4 linked regions of the Homo sapiens genome follow. The protein of the gene in region 1 binds, or shares a complex with, the protein of each later gene. Each region holds a gene or a part of one and is shown on either strand. Other genes may lie near its edges. The genes, in order: WDR20, USP12, USP46 and WDR48.

The links.
Region 2: the proteins of WDR20 (region 1) and USP12 are in contact, whole or in part, in a crystal structure (PDB 5K1C), measured with the Homo sapiens proteins. Residues at the interface, in NP_653175.2 of Homo sapiens: Asn41, Ser42, Gly44, Ser45, Arg151, Ser170, Lys259, Ser260, Tyr261, Phe262, Gly263, Glu282, Asp283, Asp284, Leu285, His301, Lys304, Ser305, Trp306, Gln374, Asp375, Thr376, Arg516, Met517, His533, Glu534, Arg535; in NP_872294.2 of Homo sapiens: Glu207, Asn209, Thr210, Ser211, Thr213, His214, Arg217, Arg277, Val279, Phe280, Pro281, Leu282, Glu283, Leu284, Arg285, Phe287, Asp297, Met299, Gln342, Glu345, Tyr348, Thr351, Ser352.
Region 3: the proteins of WDR20 (region 1) and USP46 are in contact, whole or in part, in a crystal structure (PDB 6JLQ), measured with the Homo sapiens proteins. Residues at the interface, in NP_653175.2 of Homo sapiens: Asn41, Ser42, Gly44, Arg151, Lys259, Tyr261, Phe262, Gly263, Glu282, Asp283, Asp284, Leu285, His301, Lys304, Ser305, Trp306, Gln374, Asp375, Thr376, Leu509, Arg516, Met517, His533, Glu534, Arg535; in NP_073743.2 of Homo sapiens: Asn205, Thr206, Ser207, Thr209, His210, Arg213, Arg273, Val275, Phe276, Pro277, Glu279, Leu280, Arg281, Phe283, Asp293, Met295, Gln338, Glu342, Tyr344, Thr347, Ser348.
Region 4: the proteins of WDR20 (region 1) and WDR48 are in contact, whole or in part, in a crystal structure (PDB 5K1C), measured with the Homo sapiens proteins. Residues at the interface, in NP_653175.2 of Homo sapiens: Arg20, Ser364, Thr384, Glu385, Asp386, Glu524, Pro525, Leu526; in NP_065890.1 of Homo sapiens: Val191, Lys207, Gly208, Gly240, Gln241, Gln242, Arg243, Cys244, Ile245.

Annotation. Positions count from the first base shown.
Region 1 is NC_000014.9:102,191,550-102,199,163, forward strand, and holds part of WDR20 (WD repeat-containing protein 20), read left to right. Parts: intron 1-1,913; coding exon of another isoform or gene 1,914-1,965; intron 1,966-3,388; coding exon 3,389-3,571; intron 3,572-3,577; exon of another isoform or gene 3,578-4,324; coding exon of another isoform or gene 4,325-4,355; intron 4,356-6,205; coding exon of another isoform or gene 6,206-6,298; intron 6,299-7,614. UniProt on the Homo sapiens protein: Regulator of deubiquitinating complexes. Activates deubiquitinating activity of complexes containing USP12. Anchors at the base of the ubiquitin-contacting loop of USP12 and remotely modulates the catalytic center of the enzyme.
Region 2 is NC_000013.11:27,161,362-27,168,975, reverse strand, and holds part of USP12 (ubiquitin carboxyl-terminal hydrolase 12), read left to right. Parts: exon of another isoform or gene 1-39; intron 40-6,052; exon of another isoform or gene 6,053-6,116; intron 6,117-7,614. UniProt on the Homo sapiens protein: Deubiquitinating enzyme that plays various roles in the regulation of the immune response and inflammation.
Region 3 is NC_000004.12:52,656,087-52,664,026, forward strand, and holds the start of USP46 (ubiquitin carboxyl-terminal hydrolase 46), read right to left. Parts: upstream 3,216-7,940; 5' UTR 3,065-3,215; coding exon 3,029-3,064; intron 2,196-3,028; exon of another isoform or gene 2,088-2,195; intron 454-2,087; exon of another isoform or gene 225-453; coding exon of another isoform or gene 210-224; intron 1-209. UniProt on the Homo sapiens protein: Deubiquitinating enzyme that plays a role in behavior, possibly by regulating GABA action. May act by mediating the deubiquitination of GAD1/GAD67.
Region 4 is NC_000003.12:39,046,946-39,055,489, forward strand, and holds the start of WDR48 (WD repeat-containing protein 48), read left to right. Parts: upstream 1-5,070; 5' UTR 5,071-5,080; coding exon 5,081-5,128; intron 5,129-5,346; exon of another isoform or gene 5,347-5,656; intron 5,657-8,544. UniProt on the Homo sapiens protein: Regulator of deubiquitinating complexes, which acts as a strong activator of USP1, USP12 and USP46. Enhances the USP1-mediated deubiquitination of FANCD2; USP1 being almost inactive by itself.

The sequences.
Region 1 (7,614 bases):
GCCTTTCTCTATCTGGGGTGGGGCTCCAAAAAGCTCTGGCCCAAGAGTGGAGTCCATAGATTTTTCAGAAATACAATTTTTTTTATGGGCACATAACCTAGCAGTCACTTCTGACTTCTTGGTAATTCTTACTTGGTAAAGGTGACATGTTGCCTGGCTGGACTTCTGCTGTTCCCGTTTGGTCAGTGCCACTGGAAAGGGATTGGGGAGGGAGGAGTGACCTTAGGTGAGAGAGATTCTAAGTGTTCCTTGGGGTCAGCCAGGTCTACTTTTGTGTCTTCTAGACAGTGCCACTCACACTAGTGTTGACAGATCAACTTTAAAAAAATTTTAGTCTATGTGGATTGATACTTTTGTAAAATAAAAAGAATTAATAGGAAAAGAAACTGAAAAAGACATACAGAATATAAACTCTAACTTTTTATCATTACATTCAACAGATATAAAATTTGTCCGTTGCCATAAAAGTTTCTAAACTCTTATTCTCAATGTCTGTACTACAGGCAGTGCATTTGACTGCAGACTAATAAACTAGTCCTGGACTGGTACACTTCAAGAGCAGTGACCTAAGAAGAAAGTTTGTTAAGCAAATTAGTAGAATAAACAGGATATTTTTAGAATATTTACCTGAATTTTTTTTTTTTTTTTGAGACAGAGTCTCGCTCTGTCACCCATACTGGAGTGCAGTGGCACGATCTCGGCTCACTGCAAGCTCCGCCTCCCAGGTTCAAGCGATTCTCCTGTCTCAGCCTCCCGAGTAGCTGGGACTACAGGTGCCCACCACCACGCCCGGCTAATTTTTGTGTTTTAGTAGAGATGGGGTTTCATCATATTGGTCAGGCTGGTCTCAAACTCCTGACCTCAGGTGATCCACCCGCCTCAGCCTCCCAAAGTGCTGGGATTACAGGCGTGAGCCACCGTGCCTTCTGGCCCATTTTACCTGATTTAAGAGTAAAAATAATCTCTTCTCATTTAAAATGCTTCCATCTTTTCAGTAAAGTTCCATATTGGGAGGCAGGGATGTAAAAATATACCAATAACTGAAGCCATTATAGTTGTGAGGGGTCCCTAAGTCTAACTCTAAACTGGTGGCAGTACTTGGAAAAACAGGTGCTTTTACTTCCTCTGTTGTTTCTGAGAAACATTACGTATTTTTTAATTTATATTAGGCTATTTTCTCTGTTAATTTCTGGCCAGCCTTTAAATTGATCTGTGTATTTCAGCGCATAATTTTAGGTATATTCTTTCAGGGGAAAGTTCCCTAAGTGGTTGTTGCTGTCATTTGTCTTGCTATGTCATCTAGCCTGAAGTGCAGTGGTGCAATCCTAGTTAACTGTCACCTTGAATTCCTGGGCTCAAGCAGTCTTCCCACCTCAGCCTCCTGAATAACTGGGACTACAGGCATGCACCACCACACCTAGCTGATTTTTTATTTTTCTTAAGCAAACTAAAAAAAAAAAAAGTCTCAAGAGTTGAATATGCTGATACAGTAATTATGTATAACTTAATTGTTCGTATTTCAAATTGGATTTTTGTTCTCTAGCTGCCAGTTATATCTTATTTTATATTTGTAGGTTTTTTTTTTGTTTTTTTTTTTGTGGCTGTCTTCCTCGTTCTGAGATGAATGGCATGTGGTGTTCTCTCAGGCCAGGATTCTCTTTCCCTGCCATCCGAGCCGCTCAGAAGCTGCCTTCCTCAGACAGCCTGTCCGTGGCCATCGTCCCAGGCCCCGCTGCTCACTCGCAGCACTCGGCTGAGCTGCCTTCAGCCTGCCTTGCTGTACAGCGGCCGCTCCCCTCCACTGGCCGCTTTTCTCCTCGCTCCAGTCAGGACTCCCTTTTGTTTTGTATCATGCTTTGTATTACACTTTTCAAGGCTCTTTCATGTATATATTCTCTTATTTCATCCTCCAGACAATCCCATGAGGTTGGTAGAACAGAGATTCTCATCTCCGTTTTAACTGAGGTGAGGCTGGGAGAGTGTCCGCATGGCATGCACCCTCATTCCTTTGCCCTGGGGCTCCCAGAACTACTTGTTACCGCTCAGGTCCAGACTTCTACATGTGCAAGGTTTTGAGTTTGCTCAAAGACGCCTGTAATTTTGAGGTCCTCTTTTCTACTCATTACTTATATTTGTTATTGGAAAGTCCAACATTAGAATACTTGGTTCGATGTCACAGGCCTCTTTGGAAGAAAGAAATCTTCAGAACCTGAGGGGGCGGTCAGTAGAGAACTAGAGCCGGGAGCCCCAGAGGGCCACACAGCGTGAACTGGGTGTCTTGAGGGACAAGTTCTGCTTCAGGGTTAGTTGTCTCCACTGGAGATTTTCAGACAAGAGTGGGAGGGGGTGGGTTTCCCTTATTTCACCAATAAAAGCCCAGCATATTGGGATGCCACAGGACATTTCTCATGAAGAAAAGAATCCTTCTTGAAAGTGGGGAGGGCACATTGAAAAATCACTTTTCACCCAAGTGAGAAATCATTTGCTTTTGACTCTCTCTCCCCATCCCCTTAATGGTCAAACAGACCTGGGTTCCAAATCCAGCCCTGCCACTTACTTAGGTAGGTATGGTGACGTTGGTCAAGTTATTTAACTTCCCTAAACTTGTTTTCTCATCTGTAAAATGGGTAAAATATTGTCCACTTTGGAGCATTATTGTTAGGATTAAGGACAATGCATGTAAAGTCCTTTGATTATGGCCTCGATAAGTAATGTTCCCCGAAACCTAATCCAGAAGAGGGATTTTGACCCAGGAAGGGAGCCACCTGTATAGAGTGGGCTCCAGCAGTGGTTCTTAGACTTGAGCGGGCATCAGAATCACCTGGAAGCCTCTTTACGACTTGCTGGCCCTACTCCCATAGTTTCTGATTCATTTAGTCTGGGGTGAGGTTTGAGATTTTTGCATTTCTAAGTTCCCACATGCTGCTGCTGCTGCTTCTGGTTTGGGGATTACACTTTGAGAACCACTGGGCTGCAGGTAACTGGCCAGTGGGCATGTAGGTGCTGTAGATACATTTGAAAGCCGAGCTTTTTATGTGGTTACTCTGTTAGACACTGCTTGAAATGCATTTTGAAAATACTGAATTTAATATCTCAAGGATATTTCCTGCTGAAGTCCAGGAGTCTTTGTTACATATATTTGAAGGAGAATAAGTTGTGAAAGTAACAGTTGTAAACATATTATAGATAGTCTAATAATATCTAATTGGCTAAGGTATGTGAAAGTGCTTTTATAAAATGTTAGATGATGTTAAGTCACAACTGAAAAAACATTTTAAATCACTTTGTTTTTAAGATGAAACATCATAATGGAGTATAAAGTAGCATAACTTAGATTTCTCATCTCAATGTGCTGTTTACTGTATGTATTTTTCTCTTTCTCCTCCAGGCTGCTGACTTGAGTAAACCAATAGATAAAAGGATATACAAAGGAACACAGCCTACTTGTCATGACTTCAACCACCTAACAGCCACAGCAGAAAGTGTCTCTCTCCTAGTGGGCTTTTCCGCAGGCCAAGTCCAGCTTATAGACCCAATCAAAAAAGAAACTAGCAAACTTTTTAATGAGGAAGTAAGTAGCACCCTGTCTTAGCTGTTAAGAATCCCTTTAAGAGTTGATACATTCTTACCGAGGGTAGTCGGCCTTATTTTGCACTTCAAGCTAAGCCCATTTTTTATTCGCCCAGCCCTCCTACCTAGTATGCCCAAGTTTAAATGTGGTGGATTAATTTGTTGACCTTACCTGTTCTTCCTTGGGGTGACTGTTTTGTGCATTTTTATGGAGCATGCTCAGGTGTCTATAACAGGTGTTTTAAAACTCTTCTATAATGGAGATAGGGACAGTACTGTAACTCGGTATTTATAATTTAAGTAAGAAAATGTGGAATTCCAAAGTTGGTTCACATCACCAGAACATTTCATGCAGATCAAAGAACTTGATGACATTTCCTTAGGCTGCTTAAATTGTAGCCAAAGCTTTTGTATGTATGTTTGACAGTCATTTGGCTAAGGAGTACTTCACTTGCTCTTGAAAATAGTTACTGTAAACTCATCTTTGACATAGTTGGAAATCCTGGCGCTTAAAGTTTGGTCACATGACATAGCTTTTGCCAGTGTTGTAGTATGTACTGGGGTTTCTAGTATCTTCAATTTCATTCTGGAAAGAGCCTGAGATATCTGAGCTGTCTGTTCAGGAACATGTCAGGACTGTTAAATGTGGCATATAGAAATTGCCAAGTAGATTATATTTTTTAAAGCTGTTGGAGCATCTTTCAGCCTCAAGTATTGCTATTTCATATTTAATATTCTTCCTCGTCTGTTTCAGTATGACTTTTCTACCAAGTGGAAAAGATAAGGTAGGCTTGCTGAGTTAGAAGCCCTGGGTTCCAATCTCTACTTGGGACCTTGCCCCTGAGGCGCAAGGGTCAGGCTATGTGGGACCCCCTCCCTTTTGCATTGTTGCATGGTTTTAACATCATTAACTTGGAACAAAAACACATTATAGAGTATGGTTTTTAAGAAATAATTTTGTTTGGGGAAGAAAATTCAAATTGACAAATGGCAGTTAAAATTTGGATTCTTTTGCAGTTATGGTACTTGCTATTCATGCAAATCAGTATCCACCCAGGGTGCTCCTGTTTGACATTGCCAGTGGATTTGATAAGATCTTATGAACCATGCCATCTCTTCTAGTTTCCTCTGAGTTGACTGGAAACAAAACTTGCCATCTGGACTGACAGATTGTAGAGGAAAAGTATTTAATCCCATTTTCCATTAAAAAAAAGTTAAGCAGAAAATATTTTATTTACCTAGATGTTTTTTTAGTATCATCTGCAGAAGTGATTTCTAAGTAGCTGGATGATTATTTTTTTGGTGCTGAGTTTGGGGAGCAGCGCACAAAATTGGCCTCCTCTGCACTGTTAGCAGAAATTGTGAATTTGGAATCATTGTGGGTTTTTATTGTTTAGGTAGGGGAGAGTGTGATTGGAGGGGGCAGGGATTGGAGCCATGTAAGGGCTGTTAGTAAACAAGACCCGGAGGCAGCCCTGGCCGAGGATGGTACAGAATGCCGCTTAGAGAACAAGAAAGTTTTGTGTGTCGTGGCAGGGGGAGGGCAGGGAGTTGGAGACCACACGTCCCCAGAATCTCAGGGCTCTGGGAGCACTCAGGCTGCATTGGCCAGAACTATCCCTGCCCTGGTGACTGGGAGTTGCAGGCTGGAAGGCAGCTCCTCATTCTTCATGATTTAAGCATGAGTTATCTCATACTCACTTTACATTTTATTTGAGAAATTGCTATTTAGAATGCTAAGACTGTGTGTGGTTTAATGCCAGCTTTGCATTTACAGCTTGAGGCTGAAATCGATTGCCCTTCATAGTAAGGAGATCCTCTGGCCATGTGGATACATTTTTATCAGATTTTGGTCAGAATGTCTAAGAGCAAGGGTCACCGGAGGTTTGTTCCTTAGAGAGTGCCAGGAATGGTGGTGAAGTAGTCATCGTGTCGTGCTTTGCTGTGGTGTGACATTTACAGGTTTCAAGGCACTTTTACCTATGGCCTCTACAGGGAGGGTGGGGAGTTGTTCCCATTTTACAGATGAGGAAATAGTCAAAGAGCACATAAGTGAATTGTCCAGATCAGGTAGCAAGTTGATGATAGAGTTGGAACCAGAAATTAATTCCAGAAACTCATTGGTTACAGGACCCACCATGCATGGTTGCCAGATGAGCTCTTGCCCTTCCGGGAGCTCACAGTTTAGTAAGAATGGACAGAGAGTACTGGGCACGTGTCAGCACAGCGATATGAACAAAATACCAAGGGCTAGCTGCCGCAGGAATTCTTTAGTATGCATTTTAAAGTTTTTTAAAATGTTAAGTTCACTGGGGGAGTTCCAAGAAATGCTTTTAGAAAGTGATGTTTGATGTGGGTCTTAAAGGGTACATAGTCATTAGAGGAGGGTAAGGAAGGCCTTCAAAGCTGGAGGAACAACTAGGCATGTGAAAGAACATCCAGTAACAGCTTGGCCACATCACAGTGTGGGACTTGGAGTGTCAGAGTTCGAAGCTGGAAAGATAAATTGGAACCAGCTTGTCTTATAAAAGCCTTTTCATGTCACGTGAAGCAATTTGGAACTGACACTGGAAGATGTGGGGGAACCTTTGGCCTTTTAATGAAGGGAGTGACAGGATCAAATGTGTTTTTTTAGAACTCTTGTCAGCACTTGTGGAAGGTGGATTGGAATGAAGAAAGACAGAATGAAGGTAGCAAGACCAGTGAGGAGGCTCTAGTAACTGTCCAGGTGAGAGCTGAGGGCTTGAACTAGAGTTGCGGCCATTGTTTCATTCATTCAGGACCTTGACTACCTACCACATGCCCAGCACTGGGTCTGCAGCAGTGGGCAAAACCTGCCCTCCTGTGACCCCTCTCAGGAGGGAAGAGAGGTATAATAGCACCACCCCCGAAACACTGGTGACCACAGATGGTGACACTTTGTGATGTAAGAGGCAAGAGAGCAGGCCCAAGAAAGGGAGAGAATCACAGAGGTCTACTTTATTTATTTATTTATTTATTTATTTATTTATTTATTTATTTATTTATGAGACAGAGTCTTACTCTGTCACCCAGGCTGGAGTGCAGTGGCGCAATCTTGGCTCACTGCAACCTTCACCTCCCAGGTTCAAGCTATTCTTGTGCCTCACCCACCCAAGTACCTGGGATTATAGGCCACCTGACTAATTTTTGTATTTTTAGTAGAGACGGGATTTCACCATGTTGGCCAGGCTAGTCTGGAACTCCTGGCTTCAAGTGATCCACCCACCTCAGCTTCCCAAAGTGCTGGAATTACAGGCGTGAGCCACCACGCCTGGCCAACACAGAGGTCTACTTTAAACTGGGAGGCAGAGGACATCTCTCGGACGAAGTGCTATGTTTTAAGCTGTGCCTCATGTGAGAAGAAGGCCAACCAGGTAAGGAACTGGAGATGGAGCTTTCCTGCAAAAGGAATAGCACATGAGGGCCCTTGAGCCCAAGGAAACTGAAAGAAGGACGGTTTACCTGGGGAAGGTGGCATGAAGTAAGGGCATGAGATTGGAGGGCCACATCACCTACGGCCTGATCCAGATTTGTTTCTTAGCCTGAAGTACGGGATTCCTTAGAAGGGAGCAGGTGCACAAGGCAGGCAGATTGGTGTTTTTGAAAGGTACCCTGGCTGCTTTTTGGAGACTGAATTGGAAAGGTGTATTAATAAATCAGGTTTCTGGGTGTCTCTTGCTGTGTTGGGTGAGACTGGGAAAGGAGCAGTTGTCAGGGAATGGAGGGGAAGATCAGAGGTTCTGGTCTGTACTTGCTAAGTTCGAGAGACCTGTAGATAGTGGGATGTATGGATCTGGAGCACAAAACTAGGGGTTACAATTTGGCAGTTGTCAGCATAGAAATAATAATCACATCCTTGAGATTAGATGAAAGGTTCTTTGGAGAGATGATGGTGAGAACAAAGAAGGCCTGGGTCTGAGGCCTGATTATACTCCAAGATTCTGGCCATCTCAGCTACTGCTTTCAAAGGGGCACTTAACACACAGTTAATTACCACGACATTTACAACTTCACAGCCCAGAA
Region 2 (7,614 bases), on another chromosome or scaffold:
TGGGCTGGACTTAAACAGAACACTTCTCAGAATCAGCAGCTGTGAAAACATTTAGGATGAGTTGAAATTTTATTCTATAAGTACTGAAGTGTACATAATTTTTTCATTTGTCAAAATAACGTACCTGGGCAAATCTGCAATACCTTAATTGGGTTAAGTAACTGTTAAAAACAATTCTCTTCAGCTGTGTCTTATTTTAGATCACTAGTGTTGTGCTTACATGTGAAAATTAGTAAAACTTGTTTTTCATAAGTTAGTATTATAGCCTGAACCAAATGAGTGATTATGTTTAGATTGCAGTGAGTACATTTTCAAGGGTACCTCTTGAAATACCTGTTTTTAATTTGTCTATGAAATAATACATTTTCAGTATCACATAGTGTTTATTTTGCCTTTGAAGTAGTTTCAGACTTCAGGGCCTGGCACGGAGTACCTGCCTACCTGATATTTAATATTATACTTAATAAGTGTGAAATAACGGGAAAAGTGACAGAATACATGTAGAGAGGCTGTGTTTTGCAGTTGAGGTGGCTAATCCGGGTGGTCCGTCATGGGCATGCAGTAGTGGTCAGGACAGCCCCTGCTTTGGAGCTGGCACTACTTACTGTTAGCTCCATAAATGTTAGCTCTGCCTCTGATCATTATTGTCTCTTCCTGTTTGGGTTGTAGGAGTCATGGTTAGGAAGGCGTTGTTGGGAGGGGGACCAGACAACGGAGAAGTTGTTGGTGCAGGAGGTGGGTAGAGTTAGATCATGGGGTGGCACTGGCCTGGCTGCTTGCCCACCCTCGGTTACAAGGGCATGAGATTAGATCCATTAGAACATGGTGGTAATGAGGCCAAAGCTGGTAAAGGTAGGTGCTAGGAGAGTCCCACGGGCTTTTCTTCTGAGAAAGCCTGTGCCTAGCACAGCACCCTGAGCATGGTAAACTTTACTTGCTGAAGAAAGGCACAGGTGAAACTGGCTGTCTTTTCTTTTTTGTTTGCTCTGTTTTAATAACACGATTTTTAAAAACATAAATTAGAAAGGACATACATGGAAAATGTTTGCCTTTTCTTACTGCTCAGTCTCACTGGGATCCAGGTAAGGGTATGTGTGGTCAGTGCAATTTATCCTTACTACTGAAAAAAAGGAAAGCTGGGGCAAACCTCAGAGCCCATGCGTTGTTGGGAATGTGTGTGTGTGAAAGTCTCCTCTTCATATAACAAGAATATTATATTAAATAATGAAATTTCTTTTTCCTTCTCAAGAAATAGGGTGGATGTAGTTCTTTTATTAATAAAATATTTATTTGTAAATTAATATTTTATTAGTAAAATAGTACTTCTATGATAGGAGCATTCAAATGTGAGTTGCCATTGTTTTACTTATCTAATTTTGCTGTGTTAATTTAAGAAGGGAACAAAACTTAAGCTTCTTAAGCCTTTAAAAAAAATAAGAAAACCTCAAAAATAAGGAATCTTCTATTACATAAATGTTTGGTCAAAGGAATGTTTGAGCTTGGTGGAGAGAGAACATTTAGAAGAAGTATTAATAGAAGTTTTATTTAAGCCCACTCATCTTTTGAATTTGTCTAAAATACATTTTGGACATTAAAAATGATACATTCTCATAGAAAATCTGGAAAATATAAAAACTCCAAGAAAGCAAAAGGAAGGTCAATTTTTACCTCCCAGAGGATATGTTATTTATTTATTTATTTTATTTTTTTTTTGAGACGGAGTTTCACTCTTGTTGCCCAGGCTGGAGTGCAATGCTGCAATCTTGGCTCACCGCAACCTCCACCTCCCAGGTTCAAGTGATTCCCCTGCCTCAGCCTCCCGAGTAGCTGGGATTACAGGCATGTGCCACCACGCCCAGCTAATTTTTGTATTTTTAGTAGAGATGGGGTTTCTCCATGTTGGTCAGGCTGGCCAGAGCATATTTTATTTAACTTTTTAAAAAACTTGAGTTGTATTCCCTAGATATAGTTTTACACTGTTTACCCACGAATGATTATCATGTTATCATTATCATCATTCATGCCCATCCTAAAATTTGCCCAATTTTAGGATGAACATGAGTTTAATGTTATAAAATGATGAGGTGGTGAGATGAGCCCAATAAAGCATAGTGGTAGGGTACTAGGGCGTTGACAGGTTATATGTTTAATGATTATTAGAGGGTAAAGTGATATAGTTAGCAGAAATGGAATTTTATAAGAGGTGGTTTATTCTAATCTTAGGCACTTAGTTATCACAAAGATAAGACTTGTTATGATCTGAAATTTTTAATATGCTTGAAAACTCTAGTTTTAAATACCATATTCAATTATGTGGCATGTGTATAAATATTATGGTCTTATTTTATATCATATGGCTTTGCTTACCTTCTGGTGACTTTCTCTTTCCACCTTTTGCTAATAAGTGGCTAATAGGTCTCAAAGTAGGTTAATTATCTGCCCTACCATGATCCATGTTGGCCAGTTGCAGCGAGATGATGTCACATTTCTTGTTGCCTTATTTGATTCTAGACTTTTGACCAAGTCCCCCCAAACTGAGTCTGCCTCCTTTTTGTCATTTACCAAATTCCTTTCTTCCTGCCTTTAAACTCATATTTATTCTAGCTCTTCTGAAACTTTTATTGTCTCAGGAAGTATCTTTTAAGCATTTGTATACTTTGTATAATTCCTTTCCAGAAACCTTTTTAGATTTAAATAATCTAATTTTGTTTTGGTTTCTCTTTTAGCAGCTCTATTCCAGAAACTTAATATGGTATTTTGTTATGTATTTGACAGCATGGTATAATGAAAAGAGCAGTTGGACCAGAAGGTAAATTCTAGTCCAGATTTTGACATTTAGATGTGTATATATGGGAAAGTTTCTTAAAACTTCGAGTTAATTTTTCTCATCTGTGAAATAAAGGGATTGGACTAGATACTCTTTAATAGATATTCCTTATATGCTTGTCTCCTTCTAGGTCTAAAATTCTGATCCTTTAGTAGTTTATAAATGATTATTGGTATCATTTTCATCATTTTAGGAGCTCTTTTTTAAAAAATTATTATTATTTTTTTTGCTCTGTAGCCCATTTCTAGAACATCTTGGGAGTTCTAATTATGTTTTAGATAACATAAAAAGCATAGAATCAGACATAATTAAGCAAGAATTTCACTTAGTTCCCTAGTTTTTACAGTCTAAATACATTTTTCTTTCTTTAAAACTGGAGGTTACTGATACCACCATTTTCGTCACCAACAGCCTAATAATTCACAAAGCTATTTGCTAATTTTTGACACTTTTTTCTTTGCCAGTACCATTAAGGGATTTGAATTTTTTTGAGGTTCCATGTTTATTTCTTTAGTTATGAGTATGACCTTGGACAAGTTACTTCTCTGTACCTGTAAAGTGAGAGTAAAATAACATCTAGTTCATAGGGTTGTTGACTAGTACCTGGCCCATGGTAATCACTGTGTCATGTTGGCTGTTACTGCCCTTTAACATGATTTGCTCCCCTCCCTGTGGTAAAAAGTATTCATTGGCACTACTAATTAATCTGTTAGCTCAACATATACTAACCAAAATGGAAATTTGTTTTGTGAAATACAATTGTCAGTTCCTTTTCATTATAAGAAACGTTAGTTTATTAGTAGTATATACCCCTGAGAAAGCACTAATTTATTTTGAAATTGAGTGGATTAATTCATAATATGAAAGCTGAGAATGTAGATTGTCTTCTTTCTCTATTTTGAATAGTTCATAGAATAATTTATTTCTTTTATCTGGGAACAAAAATAACTGGTCTAATTTGTGACATTCTCAAACATATTTTACAAGTTTAGATAAGTTGAGAATGGCAAAAACCACAATTACTTTTGCAACAATCTAATACTTTTAGAAGAAAAATCTATCTTACCTTATTTTATACTAAAAAAAAAAAAAAGCACACCAGCTTTTTGTCATTACTAGAACAAGGTGTGTGCATTCAAGTTAGCTTCAGGACTTATTTTCTTTCAGATTTTTCTGTTTACTGAGGCCATATTATTATATTTAATTTCCTTATGCTCTATCCTTTAGGGAGCATAACAAGGGAATAACATCTCTTGTTGGCTTACATTGAACTTACCCACCTTGCTCTTAGATATCTTGTCTAAAACCTACAGTCCCAATCTCCTAGTCTAGAAGAGGGATATTTACATATCTACACCATACTTTAAAGGTGTTGGGAGAAAGTAGTAAGTGAAGAGTTGTATTATGAAGAGTTACACTTGCTGAACTGAAAACTCTCTATTGGAGTCCCAGTATTGTTGAAAAACTTACATATAACATTTGACCATTTGCTATCTTATGTGCAGAATTTGCTTTAGGAGGTTAGAGTGGCAGTTTATATACATTTATTTAGGAAGAAAAACTAGTAAGTCTTTGCTTTCTCACAGCAAAACTCGAAGACTTTTGTGATAGTGTAAACTATAAGAAATTTAATGTAGAGCACCACTGTGTGAGGTGGTATAGCCCTCTCTGTTCCTTGGCTTATGCTTTGCTGCTGCTTCTCTTTCAGAAGGACCATTAGCTTCTTCTAAACAGTATGTTATGTCTAAAGAAGAGATGTGTAAGCTTGCTTTATTTATCTGTAGTGAGCCACATGTCCAAAGCTACGTACCAATAAAAATTTATTTCCAACTGAAAACAAGAAGTAGATGTTTATTTCAGTGATAATGGACAGATGTTCTTAACTGAAATGCTTCATGGGTAGAGGAAGCATCCACACATTCTCTACTTGTAAAGGGTGGTTTAAATCATAATATCTTTCAGTAGAGTTAGAGTACTGTTGCCTTTGATTTTATTTTAGTGCTTTTTATTTTAGTGACCTACTAAGCCTCTACCTGATGCTAGTGATTTTTTTTTTTTTCCTTTTTGTAGGGATAAAGAGTGCTTTTTCTAAAGTATTTTGAGGAAGGATTCATGGAGACCTACATTATATCGTGCTGCATGTAGGTTCTGAGAACATGAAGACGACTGTGATAAACTCTGGTCTTATGGAACTTCCCATTCAGTGTGTCTTGAGTGGGTTATAGTTGTGCTGAGGAAGTAGTCCTCTTGACCCCTGGGAAGCCTGGAGGTATCTGGGTTGATAGGAGACCCTTAGCCAGTCCCTTTCTGGTGAGAGCAGACATACCTGTCTTACCTGTAGCTTCTTTTCTTTTTTTTTTTTCTTTTTTTTTTTTTTTTTAAGACAGGTCTTGCTCTATTGCTCAGGCTGTCTCCTACATTTAAACCATCCTCCTGCCTTGGCCTCCCAAGGTGCTGGGATGACAGGTGTGAGCCACTGCACCTGGCTATGTCTGTATTCTTGTGGGCTTTACATATACTATTTTCTCTGTGTGTCCTGATGAGAAGATTGAAAACCAGCTCTACTTACAGTATTGTAGAAGAGGATGGACGTATAAAACAAATGCATGCAATGAGATGTTTTTCTTATTGGTATAAGTAATGGTAATTATATGTGAAAGAGAAGGTGGTTTTGGGAGAGAGAAGAGGGCTTCAGGAAAAAGCTTCTTAGAAGAGAGTTGAACTTTGCAAAATGAATGGCCTTTATTATGTGGACATGGAGGGATGGGATACCAGATGTAAATAGATAATGTGTTACTCTTAGGCTCTGTAGGTGGTTTGGCGTGAAAGCGGGTCTTGTGAACAGTAAGGCTGGAGAGTAGGAAGGGGGCATATTTAAAGAAGTACCAGGAGTTTACCAAGTATTGATTCACATTAAAATGATTATTAAAGTGTGTGTTTAGCCTGAGGAAATGTAAGTCCAGAGGACAGTCATGAGGATATAAGAAACAATGGAGTTGGTAAAAATATGCTGGTAAATTGAATTACATTGATTTTTCAAAATTTGCTTGTATTTTTTTTAAGAAGAGAAAATGACAACAAAACAAGATGGATGGGGTACAAGGACAGTTCAGTGGGTTGTTAAAACTTGTTAAGGGCCTCCTTGTTTAAGAGCCAACTAAACAACCACTATTGGAAAATTTTGGATTGTATATACATGTTAAAAAATTAAGGATAAATACACACCCACACAGGGAGTGAATTTTCTTGCTTCCGTAGCAGCAGACATTTAAACGTTACCATTCAAACTCTGAGGGAAGGAAAATAGGAAAAACAAAATGAAAAAGAATGACAGAAAACACAGGTGGAAGAAATAAGCTCTTCTAGTTCATTAATCATAATAATCCAAATGGTTCAAACTTACTTTCATTGTATTAAAGGAACTATCAGAATGGATAAAAAACAAAATATTGCTCAATAAGAAACCTACCTAAAATGAAAGGGCAATCTCTTTAACAGTAACACGATAGTATTGTCACAACTAAGAAAATTAACAATAGATTTTTTTTGAGGTATTTCAAAAGCATTAATTTTATTTTGTTGTTGTTATTAGTCTTTCTCTATCTGTCATCTTGAAGATCCATTCAGAATTAGGAAAGGTTAGGTAGTATTAGCCCCATTTTCACAAAATGGAAAAGGAAGCTTAAAGTCAGCCCTGCAGCAGCTAGGGATGGGGTCCAAATTTCTAGACATGCAAACTCGTTATGACATCTACAGGGCAATGTGTTGCAGGTTTGATGGTTGAGACAAAATTACTCCTTTTCAAACAAGAGATTGGGGAATTTTTATTCCTGACTTTTCGGCTGCATATCTGTGTGTGTGTGACTTTGAGTCCTCACTAATTATTTTCACTTGGGTAGGCCGTTTAACTGGTTTCAGTTATGAAATGGAATAATAATTTCCCCATTAGATCAGATGAGATGACACATGTGAACGTCCTTTGTACTATAAATACATATCAACATCACCCTTACATGGTCATTGTTGGTAAGACTCCATGCCCTCTTAAGGAAAGGATGGAAAGCACATTAAGATACTGTGGACTGTAGGAGTTGTAACGGAGCTCACAAGTTACCTTTGACAAAGCGTAGTCATTTCAAAGTTTGAAAATGAGTATTTTAATGATCCATGAAGCAAAGTTTTAGATTACCCTTAAAATCTTTACTATGTTAAAAATGTACAGTTAATGAGTGGCTTTTTAATTTTTTTTTATTTTTTTTTATTTTTTGAGACAGAGCCTTGCTCTGTTGCCCAGGCTGGAGTGCAGTGGTGCAGTCTCGCCTCATTGAAACCTCTGCCCCCCGGGCTCAAGCTATCCTCCTGCCTGAGCCTCCCAAGTATCTGGGACTACAGGCACACACTACCATGCCCAGCTATTTTTTCTTTTTAATTAATTTTTTTTGTAGAGACAGGGTTTCACCATGTTGCCCAGGCTGGTCTCAAACTCAAGTGATGTAGCTGGCCTCCCAAAATGCTGCAATTACACGTGTGAACCACTGCACCTGGCCTGTAGTTAACTTCTGATGGCAGTAAACACTGCAATTCCCTATTAGTAACATTTTTTTTTAAAGGTATAAAATTATAGTGAGTAAATTGCCTTTATTTCTACAGTATTGGTCTACCTGGGTTTTTCAGGGATCCCTGAAAAGAGACTTTCAAAATTAGAGCCCATCTGGGCACAAGTAAAATAAGTCATAAAGTACTTAAGTTGTAGGGGTAAGGAGACAATAAAATACAAGGCTTTTGTT
Region 3 (7,940 bases), on another chromosome or scaffold:
CAGAAAAATGGTACCTTCTAATATCCTTTCTGAACACATATCAGCCTGTTCAAAATATGTTAAACGATGTGCTTAAGAAAAAAATGCAATCACCATTTGCTCTTACTACAACTACTCAAACCAGCTGGGACCAAAGTTAGGAGCGGGAAGGGTCAGTAAGAGGCCCACAGAGGAGCTAAGCAGTGAGAAGGGACCTGTAAGACACCTACCTGAAAACAATTCATTATTGAGCAAAGAATCTAAAGAGAGGTCCAGTTAATATTTACGTCTGATCCAGTGAAAAGACAGCAGTTTCCTCATACCCAGCCTTCTCCTCTGGGAAGGAAGACTGGGAGGGACAGTGGGGGCGGTGGGTGGGGGATTGACCTGAGCAGGGGGCGGGGTTAAGGATTCCCACTCCAGCCTTCCTATACATGGGAGGTGTTTATATTAGTGGTTGCTTCCACCAGGTCTGAAATGGCATGATCTCCACTGTCCCTTAAACACCTGGTAGATGACATAACAATGAGAAAGATGATGTTGACAATGACACTCACTGAGTTCTAGCCATGTACCAGGCCCTGTGCCCGAGTAATACAACAATATTAACATCACCTTTTGGTAGATAAGGAAAGTCTAAGACCGGACAACTTGTTCAAGGACACAAAGCCAACATGTGTTAGAACCAGGACCTGCCGGGTATGGTGGCTCACGGCAGTAATTTGGCGCTTCGGGAGGCTGAGGTGGGAGGACCACTTGAGCCCAGGTATTAGGGACCAGCCTGGGCAACATAGGGAGACCCAGTCTCTATGGAAAATTTAAAAATTAGCCAGGCATGGTGGCACGTGCCTGTAGTCCCAGCTACTCAGAAGGCAGAGGTGGGAGAATCACTTGAGCCTGGGAAGTGGAGGCTGCAGTGAGCCACCATGTTCATGCCACTGCACTCCAGCCTGGGTGACAGTGTGAGACCTTGTCAAAAAAAAAAAAAAAAAAAAAAAGAACCAGGACCTGAACCCAGGAAGTCTGACATTAGAACCCAAACTCTGTCACTCTCTAGACATGGCGTCTAAATACAACATCAGACTCCTTACTTAATGAATTACTGGTTCCTCACTTCATCTGGGTGATGGTCCTAAATTTGGTACCTTTTTAGGTCTCCACCTGAGATGTCAACTCTCAGGGCAGTATTGGCCTGCTCCTCTCAGGTCCTCCCCACACCCTGTCTCCCTGACTGAGTTTCACTGAAACACGTTGTGACATTCAGCCCAGGTGTGCCAGAAAGCCCCCGCAGCACTGAGGGTGGGTGGGGGGACGCGTGGGGGGAGGTTGGGGGCTGGCTTCCTCTAGGGGCATGCTAGCTCTCAAGTTTCCAGCCTGCTTCTACACAGAGAGGTGTAACCACACACAAGCAGGACAAGAACACCACCAAGGGCTGGGTCGGAGCCTCACTACCCTGTAGTATCCTTAGGCCTGCGGCCACACCAACAGACATAAAAGAGTATTCAAGCTGCTCCCGATTCACAGTTCCCTCAGGAACTGGTCGTAGGAGAGAAACTGAGAAGGCATCACCTCTTCACAAGCAGCCCCTCCACAGGAATAAGAGGAAATCTGACTCCTCGCAGAGAAAGGAAAAAAAGAGAAAACAGAAAGGCTCTAGGATCCACTCCCCGTATGGAACTCGCCCGGCACCAACCAGTACCTGTGCAGCTATCACTCTGGGAGGCCCCAGCATTTGCTTTGCTGGCCGTGACAGTGGCACGTCCCATTGTGCTGAAAGCTGAAGCCAGCGGGTCTCAATTCCACCCCTGAGCTAACACAAGGCTTCTTAATGCTCCTTTGCCATGTGTTGATCTTGCAACAGAATGTGGGACAGAAGATTTAAAAAGCTATGTGATGGGGGAAGGGCAGCCAGATCACCTTACACCAGGGCTTCTCCATCAAGCTTCCTTGGATTCCCTTTAGGGGCCAGTATTACTAGCTTCAAGGGAGGTTTTCCTCAAACTGGCACTGTAAGAGCACGTGTTGCCTCCGGGGACCCGCTTGGGAGGGGGCTAGAGGGGAGGCGGGGTGCAGTCTAAAGAATGTAGGCAAAACACACATCATCTCACCCTGCAAGGGACAGCAATGCCTTACTCCAATCTGAGCTCCCCAAAGGCTCTGACAAGTGGAGGCGCCAGCAGGGTCCAGCCTGGGGACCCAAGGGCTGGAGGTTCTTCCTACAGAAAAAGGGAAAGCAATGGGGGAAACCCAAATTAAAGTGACCACCGCATCATGGGCTCGGACTGCATCAGAACCCAGTGATGTCCCTGGCTGTATCCATGCCCGCCAGCCTCCCCTAGGTCTACAGCGGATCAGGCAGGATAACCCTGGAGACCTCCTCCAAGCCCACAGCCCGCCCCACCCTTAGGGCCTGCAAATATTACCGCCACAGAGCCTTGTCCCTTTTTCACAGATGGGGAAACTGAGGCATGCGGAGCAAATTACGGTGCTTTTTCAAACCAGGTTGAAGTTCACTTCTCCAGCCACAATTTTGCACTTTTTTTACAGCTTTATTACATTTCCGATTTCTCCAGATACACAATTGCTATTGCAAAGTGAATTTTAAACACCTCGGAAGGACTGAACTCAAAATGAGATGAGGGCAGTCTGGACGTCCAATAAGGCTGTCTTGACCGCAAGAAGAGGATGGGTGCCCCCCACCTCCAGCTTATCCCCCACCCCCTCCCCGGGGACGTTCAGGTTCGGTCGCTTCCCTTCCCTCAAGCCGCTTCCACCGCAACCCGAGGGCGGGGGGCGCAGCAGCGCGGCCCCGGGATCGCCGGGCGGGTTCCGAGGTCCCGGGGCTGAGACGGGCGCCGGGGGCTCGGGGACCCTCCCCGGCCGCTGAGGTGGCTGCGGCCGCGCGCCCAGCTCGGGGGCCGGGAACTTCTGGCGGCGCGGACCCCGCCGCCCCCGCCGCCCCAGCCACCGGGCGTGTGTGCAGCTCGGGCTTCCCTTTCTTTGCCTCGCCGCGAGTCGGGCGCGACCCCGAGGCGGCTCGGCCACTCACCATATTACAGATGGAGGCGATGTTTCGGACAGTCATTAGTCTAAAGGTTGCAGCGATCCCTCACCGCCATCTTTACAAGGGGAAACCGGGACTGCCCATGGTGGCGCGCTGGCGGGGAGGCCGGGCGGCAGCGCGGCGGCCTGGGGTCCGGCTTTCAGTTTGGCTGGGAGAGGGAGGCCGGGAGGAGGAGGCGGCGGCGCGGGGAGGGCGGGGAGGGAGCGCGGAGGGGCGGGGAGTGGCGGAGCGAGGGAGCCTGGGCCGCGGCCGGCGGCGCGGGGAGGAGGGGCGGCCCGGGCGCGCCGCGTGAGTCCGAGCCGGCCGCTCAGAGCGCTCCAGGCTGGGTTCCCGGGCCCCGCCGCGCCGCCTCCTTCCCAGCTCGCCCGCCCAGGCCTGGCCTCCTGCTTTTCCATTTGATTCCCTGCCTCTTTCTATTCGGACTGGAATGCCGGGCCAGGCTCCGGGGCGCGCCGCTGCGGCAGCCGCACCTCGCAGGTCCCCCGGCCGACCCCGACGCGGAAGCGGCGGCCCTCCTCGCCGTCGGGGAGCCAGGGAGCCGGGGACGGTACGGTGCGCGGGGTGGGGAAGCGGGCGGCCCAGGCCGGGGCGAACCCGGGGCCGCCTTCCGTCCTCGCTTTTTCCTCGTCGCCTTCCTCCTGGCGGGCCTCGGCAGCCCCCGGTGTTTATTTTTTGGCGAGGGGTAGGGGTGGCGACGTCCAACTTTTAGTTCCTCCCGAGGGTTCCAACCAGATGGCACCGGCGGGGACCCAAGAAGTAAAATGGGGCGAGGACACCGGAGCGGTCAGAGAGCCCTCGCCAGCTGCGGGCCGGGCGCCCGAGAAAGGGCGCCGGGAAGGGGGAGGAATCCGGGTCTGGGCGGAGGCCAGCAGCGGCGCGCTCGGGCGGCTTGTGACATTAGCGGGTCCAAAGGAGACGTCCCGGTTCCGCGCAAGCACTAGGGACTGTCCAAGGAGTGGAAAGAACGAAAACAAAACTTTTCCATATCTTCAAGGCAGGCATACCCCTCTCGGGTGCACCCAGCCTCTAGTTGTTGAGATGGGCGCTGTATGGGATCATGCACATTTCCCGCATTAAAGGTCGTGGCTGCGGGCTCAGAGCGCGAGTCTGTGCACCACTTAGCAGATAGGTCCACGCGAATTGAAGGGGCCCGTTTCTGAATGTGTGGAACAGTTACACATACAAGGTTGCAATTCGATGCTTTCAAAGGAGAAATTGTACAAGTGAGATGCGTGATAAATTCTTAGATCAGTGTATTTAATGACAAATTGAATCAGAAGAAAAATTAGTTGAAGATAGCTTTTATCTAACCAAGAGTAAAGATTTGAGAGCCGTTGATTGCTAATATCCCTAGAATCTGGGGAGGAAACAGTAAGACAGACTTGTTGACTGAAGGTTTTGGGAGTCATGTCACTGTGTTTTCCAGTGGACATGAGAAATAATATTCCTGCTTAAGTCTTTCAACCTAAATATTATTTCCAAATACATCCTGATGATAATTTCTTCCATTGTAAGTCATGACTGATTTTCTTCTCTCTCTCTCTGTTTTTTAAGAGACAGGTTCTCGCTATGTTGCCCAGCCTGAGGCTGGGCAGCCCCGAGTCATCCCAAACTCCTGGGCTCCAGCAATCATCCCACCTTGGCCTCCCAAAGCGCTGGGACAACAGGCGTGAACCACTGCACCCAATGTTTACATTCCTGATCTCCTTTAATCGCCACCATAACTATCAGCTGGTACATGCTATTATCTCCTTTTTTGCAGATCAGTCACATAAGGCTTAGAGGATCAAGGATCCTGCCCAGATGACTTACCGAAATGTTACAGATTAAGTTGGTGTGGTAACCTGGGCTGAGCACTCTGGGAGAGGAAGAGAAGAGAGAAGACAGGAAACAACTGAACTATGACCAATCCCAGCACGGAGGCCCAGAAAACTTTAAGATTTGAGTATTAATGTCTCAAGGTCAGGAGCAACCTCAAGGCTAAAACTCAGATCTCAGGACTCAATTTCACAGAAGTTCCACTATAAAGGCAATAATCTAAAGCTTTAAATGATATGAAAATTTTGTAATAAGAGTTCAGTATTTCTGCCAACATTGGCGCATGGATTGCAAAGTTCACAGGATTGAAAACACCATCGACATAATGGAAATTGAACAGCATCTGATTACTGAGTGCTATATCAGCAAGTTAAAAGGATCTTTTGCATACCTTTTAATGGTATATATCCTAAAACTGAAGTGTTCAATATAGACATCCAGATTGAAACTCAGGCAGTGAATTACATACACAACAAATCAGTTGAACATGGCAGAGCTTGTCAGACTTATGAAAGATTAAATACATTTTACATTTCCACAAGTGTGGTATTCACAGGTCTAAATTGGAAAATTCTTGGGTTGAAGAAGAATAATCATAATCTTAGCTTCACTCATTGAGGAAACATTATTCAGGGATGATAAGAGGTAAAATCTTAAAAATATTGACAAGCTAATGAGAGAACTTTGAGGTAAGCTGATATGCAGGTATAGTTAGGACTGGGAAAAGCAAGAAAATGGAAGGATGGGTTAGAGGGTGGCACTACACGGCTGATATAGTTTGGATATCTGTCCCCATCCAAATCTCATGTTAAATTGGAATCCCCAATTCTGGAGGCAGAGCTAGAAGGCAGAGCCTGGTGGAAGGTGTTTGCAACATGAGGAAGGATCCCTCATGGCTTGGTGCTGTCTTAACAATAATGAGTGAGTTCTCCCGAGATCTAGTCATTTAAAAGGGTGTGGCACCTCCCCCCCCCCCCGCCCCCGCCAACTCTCTCTTGCTCCTACTCTGCCATATGAATGTTTGTTCCCCCTTTGCCTTCAGCCATGATTAGAAGCTTCATTAGGACTCCTCAGAAGTAGATGTTGGTGCCATACTTCCTGTATAGCCTGTAGTACCATGAACCTCTTCGCTTTATAAATTACCTGGTCTTGGGGATTTCTTTATAGCAATGCAAGAATGACCTAATACAGAAAACTGGTACTGAGAAGTGAGTCATTGCTGTAGAGATACCTGAAAATGTGGAAGCAGCTTTGGAACTTGGTGACAGGCAGAAGTTGGAAGAGTTTGTAGGGCTCAGAAGAAGACAGAAAGATGAGGGAAAGTTTGGAATTTCTTAGGGACTGGTTAAATGGTTGTGACCAAAATGCTGATAGCTAGGACATGAACAGAATGCACCCAAGCACTTTGCTAAGGCAAAACATGCGTGACCTTTGCTCTAGTTCCCAATAATTTCCTTATTTCCATTCGAGACCTCAGAAGCCTGGACTTCAAACCAAAATGCTGATAGTGATGTGAACAGTGAAGTCCAGGCTGCTGAGGCCTCAGATGGAAATTAGGAACTTACTGGGAACTAGAGCAAAGGTCACACAATGTTAACGCCTTAGCAAAGAGCTTAGCTGCCTTCTGTTCATGCCCTAGGAATCTGTGGAAGTTTGAACTTGAGAGTGATGATTTAGGGTATCTGGCAGAAGAAATGTCTAAGCAGCAAAGTGATCAAGAAGTGGTGTGGCTGCTTCTAGCCACTTATATTCAGATGTGGGAGCAAAGACAAAAGGTAGAACTTATATTTAAAAGGGAAGCAGAGCAAAAAAAGTTTGGAAAATTTGCAGCCTGGCCATGTGGCAGAGAAAGAAAAAAGCTTTTTCAGTAGAGGAATTCAAGCAGACTGTGGAACAATTACTTGCTAGAGATGTTTGCAGGATTAAAGGGGAGCCAAGTGCTACTATCCAAGACAATAGGGAAAAAGCCTTGAAAGCATTTCAAAGAACTTCAGAGTGGCTTCTCCCATCACAGGCCCAGAAGCTTAGGAGGAGAGAATAGATTCATGGACTGGGCCCAGGGCCATGGTACCTTGCACAGCCTTGGGACACTGCTCACCACATCCTAGCTGCTCCTGTTCCCACTCTTGCCATGGCTCAAAGGGGCCTACATACAGCTTGGACTGCCACTTTGGAGAATGCAAACAGTAAACCTTGGTAGCTTTCATGTGGTGTTAAGCCTGCAGGCACACAAAGTGCAAGAATCGTGGATTCTTGGCAGCCTCTGCCTAGATTTCAGAGGACATATGGAAAAGTCTGTTTGTCCAGGCAGAAGCCTGTTACAGGGGTGGAGCCCTTACAAAGAACCTCTACTAGGGCAGTATAGAGGGGAAATGTGGGGTTGGAGGCTCCAACAGGGTCACCGCTGGGGCACTGCCTAATGGAACTATACGAAGTGGGCCACTGCCCTCCAGACCTAAGGATGATAGATCTACCAGCAGCTTGTATTCTGCACCTGGAAAAGCCACAGGCACTCAACTGCAGCCCATGAGCGCAGCCTTGGATTCTTTACCCTGCAAAGCCATAGGGGCAGGACTGCTCAAGGCCTGGGGAGCCCACCCCTTGTACCAGTGTGGCCTGGATGTGGAACATGATGTCGAAGATTATTTTGGAACTTTAAGATTTAGTGACTTCCCTACTGGGTTTTGGAGCTGTGTGGATCCTGTAGACCCTTTCTTTTGGCCAATTTCCCCCTTTTTGGGATGGAAACATTTACCCAATCCCTATACCCCCATTGTATCTTGGAAGTAAATAATTTGTTTTTGATTTTACAGGCTTATAGGTGAAAGTGACTTCCCTTGTCTCCAATGAGGCTTTGGACTTTGGACTTTTGAGTTAATGCCAGAATGAGTTAAGATTTTGGGGGCCTATTGGAAAGGCATGATTGTAGTTTGCAATGTGAGAAGGACATGAGATTTGGAGAGGCCAGAGGTGGAATGGTATAGTTCAGATATTTGACCCAGCCCAAATCTCTTGTTGAATTGTAATCCCCAATGCTGGAGGTGGGGCCTTCCTTGTATGATGTGTTTGGAACATGCAG
Region 4 (8,544 bases), on another chromosome or scaffold:
CCTGGGCTCAAGCGATCCACACACCTCAGCCTCCCAGAGTGCTGGGATTATAGGTGTGAGCCATTGCACACAGCCCCCCACCCCCCACCCCCACCCCCATCCCCCCACCCCCACCCCCACCCCCTTTTTTTTTTTTAAGACTGGGTCTTGCTATGTTTCCCAGGCTGGAGTGCAGTGACTATTCACAATTGTAGTATACTGCAGGCCTCAAACTCCTGGGCTTAAGCAATCCTCATATATCAGCCTTCCAAGTAGCTGGGACTACAGGCATGTACCACCATGCCTGGCAATTAACTGATTTTTAACAAAGGCCCTATAACATATTGGGAAAAGAACAGCCTGTTCAATAAATGGTGCTGGGAAAACTGACCCCCTATATGAAAAGGAAAGAAACTAGACTCCCTACGTCTCACCCTATACAAAAATCAACACGAAATGGATTAAAAACCTAAATATAAAACCCAAAACTATGAAACTACTAAAAGATAATACAGGAGAAATGCTTCAGGACATTGGCCTGGGCAAAGATTTTATGGATAAGCCCTCAAAAGCACAGGCAACAAAACCAAATATAGACAAATTGGATTACATCAAACTAAAAAGCTTCTGCACAGAAAAGGAAACAATCAATAGAGGAATGAGACAGCCTACAGAATGAGAGAAAATATTTGCAAAGTATTCATCCAACAAGGAATTAATATCCAGGAAGTATAAAAAACTCAAACAACTCAATAGCAAAAAAAACCCAAATAATTTTTAAATGGGCAAATGATCTGAATACACATTTTTCAAAAGAAGACATATAAATAGCCAACAAATACATGAAAAAAATGCTCAACATCACTAATCATCAGGGAAATACAAATCAAAACCACAGTGAGATATTATCTCACTCCAGTTAGAATCGCTATACGAAAAAGACAAAAACAAATGCAGAGGGTGAGGATGCAGAGAAAAGGGAATTCATACACTGTTGATAGGAATGTAAATTAGTTCAACCATTATGGAAAACAGTGTGTAGATTTCTCAAAGAACTAAAACTACAACTACCATATGATCCAGCAATCCCACTACTACCCAAAGAACAGGAAATCAGTATGTCAAAGAGATACCTGTCCTCCCACAGTTACTGCAGCACTATTCACAGTGGCCAAGATACGGAGTTAACCTAAGTGTCCATCAAAAGAAGAATGGATAAAGAAAATGTGGTACATATATGCAATGAAATACTATTCAATCATAAAAAAGAATAAAATTATGTCATTTGCAGCAACATGGATAGCACCGGAGGTCATTATCTTAAGTGAAATAAGCCAGGCACAGAAAGATAAATACTGCATGTTCTCACCAATATGTGAAAGAGAAATAAGTTGATCTCAGAGAAGTAGAGAACAGAATAGTGGTAACTAGTGGCTGAGAAGGGTAAAGGAGAGGATTATATATAGAGAGGTTGGTTAACACATATAAAATTACAGCTAGGTAGAAGGAATAATTTTTGGTGTTCTATATCACTGTAGGATGACTATGATTAACAATAATTTATTCCATATTTTCAAATAGCTAAAAGAGTGGATATTGAATTTTCCCAAAGCAATTATTACAGATTGTATACAGGTATCAAAATATCACACTGTACCCCATATATATGTACAATTATTATGTGTCAATTAAAAAATACATCCACAAATTTATTGATACTTCATAAAAAAAGGAGTCATCTAATCCCCTCTCCTTAGACACTGATGGCCTTAGTAACTAAGTTCTAATGAATTGACTATGGCTTAAAGTGACACTGCATGACTTCCACTGTGAGTTTAGAAAAAGCATTATAGCTTTCAACCAGATTTTTCTTCTTCGGGATGCTCATCCTTGGAACCCAGTTAGCATATTGTGAGGAACCAAATAGTGCTGTGGAAAGATCATGAGAAGGTGTTCTAGCCACAGCTTTGGCTAAGGACTAGGCCAACACCAGTATCAGTCACCAGACATGTGAGAGAAGGGGTCTTCAGATGATTCCAGCCCCAATCTTTTAGCTGCCCCAGCTGATGTGAAGTGGATAGTGGAACAGAGACAATCTGTTCCCATGAAGCTCTGCATAAATTACAGATTTGTAAGTAAAGTAAGGGTTGTAATTGTTTTAAACCATTGCATTTTGCAGATGGTTAAACAGCAATAGATAAAAGGAACAGGAAAAAAGAGTGCTGAATATTGGACAGTAGTTCAGAGCATATACTGCATCCTACAGGACAGTATCAAAAAGGGTTATCTCCCAGAAGGCACCATAGCTAAGTCTTCAATATATCTTCAATAAGACAAGATACTTCTCAGTGATTGAGTACACAATTAGACCAATAAATTCCATGGGCAATAGCCCATTGCATTACTTCTTTCATTGCAGAGTGAATTTCTTGGTCAAAAGCAATATAGTGTTAGAGAAAATGATAGTGTCTAAAGCACTGAGTAATTCCCTAGATGGTGGTGTCAGCGGAAGTACAGTGAGCAGGGAAAGCAAATCTCAATCTAGAATAAACATATTTTAGAGAGGACAAATAAGAACTCCCTCAATGATGGGGAGGGCCAATGACCAATGGAATAGACTTGCCTACATGTGACTGGCTGACCCTCCCAGAGCATGGGGTATTGGTCACTGCTTCTGAACACCCAGCGGTGGCTTGGTGATCCCATGCATAGCTCCAATCCTGTTGCCATTGCCATTGCCATTTATTTCATGATTCTACTGAGCAGGCAGTGAGGCTGAGTTTCATCACAAAGCAGTTCATTTCATCCATATGATTCTTAAGATTTATTCTGAGAGGTCCATCACTATATCCCTTCTGGAGTCTTCCTTGTCACTAGTTCTCCAGTCTTGCTCTTTCCATGTCCTTCACAAACTGGCCAAAAAATTATCCTCTGACCCTGAATTGACCATTTCTCCTTTCAGCCAAACTGAACATCAAAACATACTGGTGAAAATTCTGCCCACTGAAAGAACTTCACTATTTCAATATTTTTCAGGTCCAAAGCAGGACTACAACATATCAATTTCTAGCAAGTACCAGTATATTGTCCAGAGCAACATACCTGTATTGTATTTTGCACATCATAGGTGCTCAATAGACACTTAAGCAATTTTTAAAATACAGACATATTATTTCCCTACCTGTATTTCAACAGCTTCCCATTGGTCTAAAAGATCCTGCTGGGTATGGCCTCTGCATACTCCTTTCACTTCTCTGTACTCTAAGCCTTGACTCTCAGTTCCTGTAATGTTCCATGCTCTCTCCTGCTACAAGACCTTTGCTCAGACTGTTCCCTCTCCTTGCCTAGTTAACTCTTGACTCAAGATACTTCCTGTCTTACAATCATCTTTCTTCATAGTACTTATCTCTGTATTAATTCCTGTCTCATCCTGGGACTCTAAGTTCTATGACTATGTGCACTCACCACTGATTCCCCAACACCTAATATAGTGCCTGGCATATATGATATGCTAAATAATATTTTGTTAAATGAATGAATACATGAATCAGTGAATGAATAAGCCTGTAATGATGCAGTAATTTACCTATAAGTTATCACTGCCAGTTTTGCTTAAGAAGCTTTCTGCCATCACAATTTTTACTCATCTAATTCACATTTCTTTATTAATTTAAGAAGTATTTGTCAAGACAACTTTTCTAAGCATTACTTATATACTAGCACTATGCAACAGAAATTTGTGACCACATATGTAATTTTAAATATTCTAATATCCATGACAAAATTAATAAATTTTATTTAGCCTAATATACCCCCAAACATCATTTCAACATGAAATCAATACAAAAAATTATTAATGAGATATTTTACATTCTTTTCTTCAAACTAGTCTTTGAAATTTGGGGGTAGTTTACAATTACATATCTCAACTGGAACTAGCTATATTTCAAGTGCTCAAGAGCCACAAATGACTAGCAGATACATCATATGCTATATCCCACAGTGTAGTTCTATAGGATTCACTTTCACTAGAGAGGGTCTGATCACCCTCAGCTCTTATAATTAGTGGTCAGGAAAACCACCTTAAGTCAAACCTAACTGTTCCAGTATAAGAGATGATTTAAACTAGAATTGTCTCTGGGAACAATTTTAGCTGGTGTACCGTTTTCGCCTTCCTATAACATCTTTTTGTCTTGTTTTTTTTTTTTAAACTTTTAAGTTCAGGGGTACAAGTGCAGGTTTGTTATATAGGTAAACTTGTGTCACGGGTGTTTGTTGTACAGGCTATTTTGTCACCCAGGTATTAAGCCTAGTACCCATTAGTTATTTTTCCTGATCCTCGCCCTCCTCCCACCCTCCACCCTCCGAAAGGCCCCAGTGTGTGTTGTCCCCCTCTTTTGTGTCCATGTGTTCTCATCATTTAGCTCCCACTTATAAGTGAGAACGTGCGGTATTTGGTTTTCTGTTCCTTTGTTAGTTTGCTTAAGGATAAGGGCCTCCAGCTCCATCATGTCCCTACAAAGGACATGATCTCGTTCTTTTATGGCCCCACTTTTTATCCTTTTAATTTAAACGGATTCTTTGCTCCCCCTGAAGATGGAGGCCACCTCCTTTGCAAGGACTTCTATCTCTCCCCCTTTGAGGCCACGACATAATTCTCCGCATTTTTAGGTACTTAACAGTAAATCACTTGGTTCACTTGGTTCTCCTGCCTGCCTAGGAAAGGTCAGGAGATGGTCCAGCGCCATGTCTAGCACTGTTAATTCTTTCAGTGCTTTCGTTTTGCTTGGGCCTCTCGGGGAGGGCGCGGAAAAGAGCGCAAGCCAGGGTCTAGGACCACACAAGTGAATTCGTGTTGCTCCCTCAGCCCTGAAAAGTGGCTCTCTCCCCATCAGCATTATACTTGCACAGTGGTTTTGTTTTTAGGTGCATCTACCTCATCACATGGCTACCGGCCACACAGCAACTAACAGCACCGAGGAAACACAACAGCCTGTTTACCTTCAGCCCCGCCACTAACCCTTGGCCAAAGGGAAAGGGGCAGGACATCCTCCCGCTCTGAGCCACCTCCGGAAGTGACGTCGGAGTGTCAACATGCAAGATGGCGGCCCATCACCGGCAGAACACAGCAGGGCGGAGGAAAGTGCAGGTATGGAAGCCCGGTTCCTCGGTCTTCCGGACGCGGCCGGCAGCTCCGGGCCCACTCCAGCTAGAAGGTGCCCGGCGCCACGACCAGCTGGGGTAGCGGCATGGGGCGAACGGGGCGGGGCGCGGCCGGCCACGAGGGGTGGGGCCGCGGCGCTAACGGCTTGAGGAAGGGGCGGGGGTCGGCTTGCTTGGCCCTTGGGGCCCAGGCCCGGGACCCTCGTGGGCGGCATTCTGAGCCCGGGATTGCTTGTCGCCGCTCTTCTGTAGGAGTGGACTTGCGGGGTCGGGATAGGCTCGTTCCCCGCCCACTTGCCTCCCCCTTGCCCTGTCTTTCTTCGAAGCGCTCTGCCCTCGCTGCGTCGGAGCCGAGGCCTCCAGGGGTTTCCCAGGGGGGTGGGCGTTGGAGGAGTGAGCGGCTTGTGCGGGGGCGTGGCGAGGCGGCGGAGCGCCAACGGCCCTGCGGGGTTTCTGCTGAGGATTCCGCACTTGGGAGCCCCCAGCCCTCTCTTATGTGGGAGCTGTCCCCTGGGTAGGTTTAAGTGACATAAGAATGTGCGTGGGGAAATTATAATTTTAATTGTTTTGGTATTTAAGTTCCTCTTCACCATTTCTTCATCTTAAGTGTGCATCGCTGAATCTGTCTTTATTGTTTGTGTAATTTATTGTCCATGTGGTAAAGAGTTGTCTAATCTTACCGTGTGTGTCTTGTGCCTTATGCCTTTGTGAATTCACTTTTGTTTGCGGTTACGCTTAAGAGTTACTGCCACTTCGGGGAACATCACACACCGGGGCCTGTCGGGGGCTGGGGGCGCTAGGGGAGGGATAGCATTAGGAGAAATACCTAATGTAAATGACGAGTTGATGGGTACAGCAAACCAGCATGGCACACGTATACCTATGTAACAAACCTGCACGTTGTGCACATATATCCTAGAACTTAAAGTATAATAATAATATTAAAAAATAGTTATTGCCACTTAATATTTTCAGTGATGCAGGGAATAAAAGCCCTCTTACAGGTGTTTGCCTGCAGGTATATTGTATGTGGTAGTGGCAGTTTGGTGCATTTATTCATTAAACATTTACCTAGCACTTAGGGTGGCCCCCAAAGGGGAAAAGGGATTGAAAGGGTGTAGAAATAATTAACACCTAGGCTTTCTTTATAAAACACAGCATTATATGGAGTTCTGCGGGTTGAAATCAAGTGTCAGATAAAGGTAGTTAGATGAAGGGGTCCTTCAGTAAGGTAATCCCAGCAGAAGGTGGTAGGCCATAAAGTCTTCTGATTAGTTCACATCTTGGTTTTATTGATCTCACTGATCAGTACAGTGTCTTAAGCACTCACTGGATGTTTGTTGAAATGAGTGAAATTAATAAGTCTAAACTCACCCTATTAGGTGTTTTTCAGTGCATTAGTGATAGGATTTAAGTATCACCAGCATCCAAGGCAGGTAGTGAGAATGTCTCCTTGGGACTGAAATATAACTCAAAAAGTAACCCGATTGTATTATAGACTCTATGGTGGTGTACATCTTAGGAGAGTAAGGGTAGTTAATCAGGCCTTTCAGTTTATTGCATTAAGACTTAAAACTCCTATTACTGCAGTGTGTTCCCTGCTTGCTTCCTTCCCAGGCCTGCCCACTCCCAAAATGCATGCAATAAAGTATATATATTTTAAAAAGACTTACAAGGCAATTGTACTAGTATGGGATGGAGAAAATGTAAATTAACTGCAGCAGGTTTGGAAAAACAGTGTTCCAATAGGCTGAATGTGAGCCAGTGCACGTAGAATGAGGCAGGTGATAGATAATTCCACTTTTCACTGGTCAAAGTACAAAATTAGAGTTTGGTGTTCAGCACTTAGGACCTTGTTCTTCATAGGTAGCAATCAGATTGGTGAACTGACTTGAAATTATTTCCTATGAAGAACTTTTGAAAGAGCTGTCTTAGATTAACCTGCTGAAGAGAAGATTCAGGGAACTTTCGGAATTTGTCCCTAAGGTATAGAAGCAGCCTGAGAAGCCACAGGGATTGATTTCATCTGAACCATCATTGTCTATGAGGTGTTTTTTAAACTAATGCGTGTTCATTGTAAAAATCCCAACAAACAAAAACATAAATTAGAGTTGCCCTCCATGCTTCCAAGAAAGCTACTGCGGGCAATGTCATGTTTTAATCCTAGACCAGAGTTTATCAACCTGAACATTCTTGAAATTTCATCTGGATAATTCTTCGCTGTGTCTGAGGGAGGGAGCTGTCCTATGCATCACAGGTTCTTTGGCATCATCCCTGGCTTCTACCAACTAGATGTAGTAGCATCTCCCCAGTTGTGACAACTAAAAATGTCTCCAGACATTTTCAAATGTCCCCTCAAGGGCAAAATTGCCGCTGGTTGAGAACCGCTGTTCTATACCTCTTGCTGTTTGTGTACCTGACTTAACATATTTTTTTGCTATAAATGGAGCCATAGTATTCACTGTTTTGTGTCTTGCTTTGTCAAATTTTTAAATAAACATTCCCTTTAGCCCAGAATTCCTTATCTAAAAATATATTCTACAAAATTGCATATGCATGTATCTGTCCCTACTTATGCAAGGGTGTTGTGTGAAGCCATTCTTGAATTGCTATAAAGAAATACCTGAGACTGGCTCATTTATAAAGAAAAGAGGCATAATTGGCTCATAGTTCTGCAGGCTTTACAGGAAATATGGTGCTAGGATCTGCTCGTCTTCCAGGGAGGCCTCAAAGAGAGAGAGAGTCAAAAAAGCAAGTCAACATGGCATATTCCCATTTCCACAAAGGAAATATGCATTTTAAAAGTCAGGAAGGGTAATAGCAGTGATTATCCCTTTGGGAATAGATTGTGTGATTATAGATAAGACAGGACATGGGATATCTTTTAGTTTGAAATATGCACAACTTTGTATTTTTGAACTTTTTACCACATTATTTGCTCTTATACATCAAAAAGAAAACTTCTCATCTTGGAAAAAGCATACATGGGTACTTGGAGTAAATATACTTTGTCTCCTGACTGTCTCAGACCACGAGACAGTAGCCCTGAGCTCCTTGTCAAGTTGTAGGCCAAGACAAACCCTTGAGACTTAAAAATATTGCTAAATAATCAGTGGAGGCCAGGCGTGGTGGCTCATGCCTGTAATCCCAGCACTTTGGGAGGCCAAGGTGGGCAGATCACTTGAGGTCAGGAGTTCGAGACCAGCCTGGCCAACATGGCGAAATCCCGTCTCTACTAAAAATATAAAAATTGCCGGCATGGTGGCGCATGCCTGTAATCCCAGGTACTTGGGAGGCTGAGACAGGGGAATCGCTTGAACCCAGGAGGCGGAGGTTGCAGTGGGCCGAGATTGTACCAGTGCACTCCAGCCTGGGTGACAGAGCGAGACTCCATCTCAAAAA